Homo sapiens: one gene and its partner. The gene in region 2 interacts genetically with the main gene of each other region. Each region holds a gene or a part of one and is shown on either strand. Other genes may lie near its edges.

The links.
Region 1: changes in TSPAN8 (region 2) and HAPSTR1 together harm fitness less than expected from each alone (positive genetic interaction), as found in Homo sapiens cells (one large-scale study listed by BioGRID).

What each region holds. Positions count from the first base shown.
Region 1 is NC_000016.10:9,118,751-9,122,319, forward strand, and holds the end of HAPSTR1 (HUWE1-associated protein modifying stress responses 1), read left to right. Parts: 3' UTR 1-2,885; downstream 2,886-3,569. UniProt on the Homo sapiens protein: Acts as a central player within a network of stress response pathways promoting cellular adaptability. The E3 ligase HUWE1 assists HAPSTR1 in controlling stress signaling and in turn, HUWE1 feeds back to promote the degradation of HAPSTR1.
Region 2 is NC_000012.12:71,126,917-71,130,739, forward strand, and holds part of TSPAN8 (tetraspanin-8), read right to left. Parts: intron 2,499-3,823; coding exon 2,415-2,498; intron 1-2,414. UniProt on the Homo sapiens protein: Structural component of specialized membrane microdomains known as tetraspanin-enriched microdomains (TERMs), which act as platforms for receptor clustering and signaling.

The DNA of each region.
Region 1 (3,569 bases), on a different chromosome or scaffold from region 2:
AGATTCTGGAATTGGGGTTTGGTGGTGCAATGTGTTGCTCACAAGTGGCCAGAACTCCTATTCCTAAAAGGATTTTGAGATGGAGGAACACATATTTAATTCCCCTTTATGCCTTGGTTCTTGCTCCTCTTTCCACGTTGGATAACAATTTTTTGGTTGTTTTGTTTAAGTTGGTGCTCTGAAGCTTAATCTCAGTACCCTTTACTCTGAATTGTCAAATTTTGATAAAACGTGCCATTTTCTTTGGTAAGAGAAAGCAGGTCTTAATGTCTGCCAGAACACAATTTATATGCCTTATTGGCTTCATTAAACTTTTAGAAAACTTTAGCATTTGTTACTTTTTTCCATTGCGTTTACTTTCAAATGCACCTAATGAATTTGTCACCCAGTCGCAACTTTTCCCTTCTCTGTCCCATTGCTTTCTCCTTTCCCCGACGCACAGAATAAACATGAAGCTCAGCAGTAGAAGCGTAATGATTTCCCTCAGGAAAAACTTCTGACAGCTAGGTTTTTCAAGGGTTTCCCTGTGCTAGCTGAGATGCAAAACAAATCATGGAAGATTGCATACCTGTGTGGTATTTTAAAAACAAGTTGACTTTTTCAGTTTCTTGAACGGTTAAGGGTGGATTTAAAAACTAGACAGTTTAGTTTTGGGGAACAGAAGCTCTCTTCGTCTTAAGCCAGATTCTCTGATTCTTTTAGACGTCATAGCTCCTTAGTTCTGCTCCTGTCGCCCTAACTTGGCATGGGCAAGTTGAAGTTCATCCTTAGACTGCAGCGTTCTGAGCATGGCTGAAGTATTAAAATGTTTAATATTTTTTAGAGCAAAATTGTTGGAAAGCATTTGGCTGAATCTAAAGACCTGCAGTCAGATTCTTCAATGTGGTTTACCCAACTGGAGTAGTGATAAACACCTTAATCATAAAATGAATAAAAACAAAAAAACCATGGGGCTTGTCTGCAGTTTTGTTTTGGTCATCACATCTGAATAACTTTTTGATGCAATCAAATGAAGTTTAGGCTTTTAAAAAAGAATTAGCTTTCTAAATGTTTTTTTCTAAGGGCTACTGGAACTCATTAAACTCGAATAATTGTGGCTTTGGGCCTGAAGATTTCCATTCAACAGTGAAAACTGGCTAACTTCCTTTATAGTGAGAGGGATGGCCAACATCCAACCCAGAGGGCTAGTCAGCCTCAGAGGCCAGTGCAAGACGCCAAGAGATGATTTTGAAATGGGGCCATAAGTTTAGAAAATTATGAACAGAATGATTGAGTTTTTGGCCTGGCTACTACCTCTAGTGGTGACTACGTCAGCAGATTAATCTCATTGCATTTTACTTTATGTAGTATGTTGTAACCTGGTGCTTCATTCATTAGATTGGTGACTGAGGTATTTAGTCATGGTGAGGATGGGAATCTTCAGAGATACATTCTGGATTTGTGGAATAAAGTGACTAGAAAGGTTCTTCCAGAGCAACCCCTTGTTTAAAGTTATAAGTGTTTATGGTACCTGCTACCCCTTCTGGAAAGTTGTCGGCTTTGATGGTTTAGATGACCTTACCCCATAAGGCCAGCTTCTAGCCTCCCTTTGGAATATTTGAGGTGTGTGATGTTTTAGTGGGGGCAGCATTTGAGAGACGAGCAGGCCCGAGCACCCAGGCTGGCTGTCAGACCGTGTGTTGTGCTGTTGGGTTTGATGGGATGAGATATCCAGGGTTTTACTTCCTATAATGGGATCTGCAGGCTCCTTGTGAAGTTCAGTTAGACAGTAGCCTGTGACGTAGCAAGTCAAGTTTTCGATGGCCCCTCATTTTTTTTTTATTTAGTGCTTAAAAAAAAGATTTAAAACAGCAAAAATCAAGCCACACAGCAGCTTATAGTATATACAGGTCTTTTATACATTAGAAGTAATATGGTGAAATCTTTTTTTTTTTTTTTTTTTTTTGTGATGGAGTTTCACTCTCTCACCCAGGCTGGAGTGCAGTGGCACGATCTTGGCTCACCACAACCTCTGCCTCCTGGGTTCAAGCAATTTTCATGCCTCAGCCTCCCGAGTAGCTGGTATTACAGGTGCCTGCCACCACACCTGGCTATTTTTTGTATTTTTGTTAGATACGGGGTTTCAAATATGGTGAAATCTTGTGACAGAATAGTATTCCCTTGTACAGATAAGCCTTGATGCAGGTTACAGATTTTTTATAATTAGTAATGCAGCAGTGGAGTGTTTTCTTTTTCTTGTTTTTTGAGATGGAGTCTCTGTCGCTGGAGTGCGGTGGTGCGATCCCAGCTCACCGCAATCTCTGCCTCCCGGGTTCAAGCGATTCTCCTGCCTATAACTACAGGTGTGCGCCACCACGCCCAGCTAATTTAATTTTGAATTTTTAGTAGAGACGGGATTTCACCATGTTGGCCAGGCCAGTCTTGAATTCCTGACCTTAAGTGATCTGCCCGCCTTGGCCTCCCCAAGTGCTGGGATTACAGGCATGAGACACTGCGCCTGGCCTATGTTTTAAGTTTCTCTATGACAAATTTCTGTAGATGAACTATCTGGGTCAAAAAAATTCATCTATAAAATACTGATGGGTCTTGCCAAAGTACCTTCTGCAAGGTACCAGTTAATACTTCCATCAGAAAGTAAGAGCGCCTGTTCCCTTACATCGTAGCCAGTGTTGGGTATTTATACTTCCTTTGGCAGAAGTGACCTTTCAGTTTTAATCTGTTTTTTACCTGCTCGTATGAAGGAAGACTTTTTGCTTGATATCACGTGGGTTTGAATGCTGACTCTACTACCAGGTCTGGGAACCTAGGTAAGTTTGCCTCTCTGGGCTGTTTTCTCATCTGTGAAATAAATAGAAAACATAGAAAAATAAATTAAAAAATGTGAATGTTAGTGACTTGTGTTCCTTGGAAGTTGGATACATTTACATCTCCATTTATAATTCTCCCATCAGCAGAGCCCTGGAGAACTCTGGAATGTGGCTGATAGCTTATCTTAACATGCCATTGAAAAATTAGCCCTTTTTGGCTAGGCGTGGTGGCTCACGCCTGTAATCCCAGCACTGGGAGGCCAAGGCGGGCAGATCACGAGGTCACAAGAGATTGAGACCATCCTGGCCAACATGGTGAAACCCCATCTCTACTAAAAATACAAAAATTAGCTGGGCGTGGTGGTACGCACCTGTAGTCCCAGCTACTTGGGAGGCTGAGACAGGAGAATCACTTGAATCCGGGAGGTGGAGAGGTTGCGGTGAGCAAAGATTGCACCACTGCACTCCAGCCTGGCGACAGAGCAAGACTCCGTCTAAAAAAAAGAAAAAGAAAAATTAGCCCTTTCTTTTTTCTTTGAGACAGGGTTTTACTCTCTTGCCTAGGCTGGAGTGCTTTGGTGCGATCATAGCTCACTGCAGCCTCGATAGGTAACACACTAAGTGGTGAGTTTTCAGGGAAGGGGCTTGTTCACATGTAAGAGAGATTTTAATTTTTCAAACTGAAGTTGAATGCCCTCCTAGGAGATGCCACAGGCCGGCAAGTACAGGCTGCCTCACTTCACTAGTACTTAACCCTCAAGC
Region 2 (3,823 bases):
AGGTATTCTGCACAATCTTTAGCATCCAATGTGAGAAGAATCCCTTAGGTATATAGTCTTAACATAGCTTTGAAAACAAATATTGGCCCACCTCACTAAAACCTATGCCTAAACATACTAACATAAGGTCTAAATATGGGGCGGTCTTTTTTTATATGATATTTTTCTGTGGAGATAATCTGAACATATTTTCTGCAGGAAGACATTTGCTTCTGTTTTCTTAAAAGTATTTTTTAGAGGAGATTTTCTGTTTCTGTATCTTTGTGTTTTTTTGAATTTGAACTTTGGAAACAAAGAAGGGAGATAGGCCTAAGTCATAGGGCAATAGGAAACTTGTACTAATGACTGTAAGATGAGCTATAAAATGCTTTGTTTTTGGATACATAATTTATAGACTGGGTGTCAGAAGACTTTTCCAATCTACTTTTTGAATAAAGGAAGATGGAATATAAAATGATTTGTTTCCCTTAAAAAGAGGGAGGGCAGGTTATAGACTGAGGAACTGAACAATTTTAAAAAGTTCAAACAATTATTTGAACCAACTATTTACCATATCTGCAGAGAGTCTAGAAATCACAATTAATTTGACTTCTCGAATTCAAAAACGGTTCTGTTTTATGATAGTAACGCAAAAACTTCATACCTATAAATTACTGTATAGAATGTTTGTATTAAGCTATTTTTCTCTGAATATGTCTTTAGAAGAACAAATAAAATATTTAAACATGTAATTAATACATGGAATATAACAATTTCATAAAATACTGAAATACATTAATCTTTTTGTAATCTTATTTTCCACTAGATGTATTTAAATTCTTGAAAATGCCTTTGACTATGACACAAAGGATTTCATCAACCTCCCCAATCAAGTATGTCCTTACTTTTTCTGGTTTTGCTAACTGAGGAGCATCTGTGATTTGAGCTAGTGATAGTCAATTGTCAGAACTTGAGTCTAACATGAAATATAACTCTTATATTAAATATCTCATTTAAAGCATGCTCTCTCATTCACTTAAATCATTCATGTAAAATCACTCTTGATTCATTTAAATCATTCATTTCTTACTCATCTTCATGGCCATTAGTCCTTATTTCTAAATTAGCATAAACCCAGAATACAAAGCAGAGAAATAAAATACATCTTACAAAATGCAGAATCAAGAGAAATAGACCTAATCCATAGCACCATTTGACTCTGAACATATATCAGACCTAAAGAAAGACAGCCATAACCTACCAACAAAGAATGCTTCATATTTATACCTATTCATCTGGACTACAAGAAAGTAATAACCCACAGTTTAATTTGCTGCTAATAGTCCCTAACCTTTCTCTAATAGCTGCCTGGGAAATTCCACCAGCAAACTAAATAACCACTTAGGACACTAAATTGCTTCATTCCCAGTTAAAATTTCTTTCTGGCAGTGATGTGGCACGAGTAAGAGGTAGAAAATTACCAGAAAGCCCAAGGAGTACCTTGCACAGCATTCCATGAGTGTGAAGCACAAGGCACTCAGCTGAGCTAACCAGCTCTCACAGGCATTAACCAGGGAGACACTTCACATTCTTGCTAATGCCCTGGAATAGGATTGTGAGTGAATTTGATCTACTTGATATTAAAATTACCCAAGATCTGGGATGATTCCAAAATGCTTCTCTGAAGCAGTTTTAATTCATTTTCTTGGCAAAGATTTTTAGGCCATGTGAAAAGTATCTTTCAGGTTTTTTTTTTTTTTAAAAAAAAAACATGCCAAGAAAGTTCATCAAGACAAAAATCCTATGTGGGATATTTTTCCAACATCAATAATTAAAGTGATGAAAGTAATACATAAGCCTCAATTTTCCTTGAAAATTTCTCCAAGTGAGTCAATAGTACTTAAGCTGAGGAAATCAGAGACAATTACCTCTACTTTTTAGAACTTCTTGGATTTCTCTAGAATGTAATAAGTAACAAAGAAAGAGCTCCTCACACTCTTGAGTTCAGTTTTTATTTTCTGTTTCAAAATCAAGATGAGAAATAAGAAATTGTAAAGGTCGTATTTTGCTTTGTTTGGTGCTTTTTCTTCTAACTTTGGAAAACTGTAACCCCTGTGCTAGTTTTCAGTGGGAAAAATATACCTGGCACTAAGAACTATGTGAAAATTAATTCTATCTTTTTCCCGGTAGAGAGGTCATTCAGAAGCAAGAATCTCAACCCTGCTCACTTCATAAGACTGGAATCTCCCCCTCAGACTCAGGCTGATCGAGGGAGATGATGGGCCTTTAGCATCCAGTGCTTTTCTAAAGCATCTGCGTTTTTTATGGTTGTTGTGGTTTTTTTTTTTCTGTTTGTTTGTTCACCATCAATATTTCTTGAAATTAATGAACAAGCAAGGGAATAAAAGAGTCAATAATACAAGATTATACTGTACCTCAATAACTGCCAGTCCAAATGATATTCCAATAACTATAATCAAATTTTTTGCCAAGAAGTCTTTTATGAAAGAAATACAGGTCTGTTAAAAAAAAAAAACATTAAAAGTTACCTCTCAGAAAAATTCGACCTTATATTAATCAAAATTTTTATTAATCTGGTTGACTTTTTACATTGCTATCAAGAAACACACTTAACGACAAGGAACTGGGTTATTCCTTCCACTCCCTGCTTCACCTTTGCTCCAAAAGGTTGTAACTGTTGTGGTTTGTTTATACATTGAAAAGCAATTGAGGAACAAAATTTTGCTTGACTGCCTAATTGTTGAATCTAGGGATTAATAATTACAAATAATAATTTTTCACCAACATATCCTCAAATGACAGATTTTATAATTTATACTATAAATTTTATAGCTGATAAAGCTATATATTTTACAACATAAAAGTATAAATCATAATTTTATCTTAACTTTATTCATTTTAGAGCTGATACCACCTTGACTAAGGATTTTTTAGGTTTGTAATCTAAAACAGAAAGGTTTCTGGTTGAGATTTTAGATAATAATATTGTAAATTTTCATTTTTAAAACAAGGTATTTTCTTTTTTTCTTTCTTTCTTTTTTTTTTTTTTTCTTTGAGACAGGGTCTCCCTCCAGCGCTGAAGCTGGAGTGCAGAGGCGCAATCTTGGCTCACTGCAGCCTTGACTTCCTGGGCTCAAGTGATCCTCCCACCTAATCCTCCCAAGTAGCTGAGACTGCAGGCATGTGCCACCATGCCTGGCTAATTTTTGTTGTGTTTTGTAAAGACATGGTTTTGCCATATTGCCCAGGCTTGTCTTGAACTCCCGGGCTCAAGCAATCCACCGGCCTCAGCCTCTGAAAATGCTGGGATAACAGGCTTGAAGTCACTGCTGCCGGAAAAAACAACATATTTTCAAAATCCCTTAATATTTATCAGGGTTATTTTTATCTTAAAAAGAAAAAACTTACTATGTCTACCACTATGCCATTACTTTAGATAAAAAAGAGAAATTAGGAAGTTGCCTCTCTGCTACATTTTTGAAATGTATACAATCCAGGATGCATTTTCATGCTTAAAACATTTTGGACTAGACCTAATAACTTCAAGAATTGTAAATTATGTGAAGAATTTTTTAAATGGAAAAAGACTACACAGTATAATTGTGTTATTTTTGTACTGCCCTGAAATATATTATCCCTTTGATGGTCATATATGTGCAAAGGGCTAACAAAGTATTGCTATTTGTTAAATAAAATAAAATTTCTCCAGAAGGCTAAGTCATCTTTCCCCTTCATTCCTGAATGTATTGAGTTTCTTCATTCACATTTAACCCAACGTGGTAAACATTCAAGGAAATTATTATGTCATTTAGGTTAACAATGA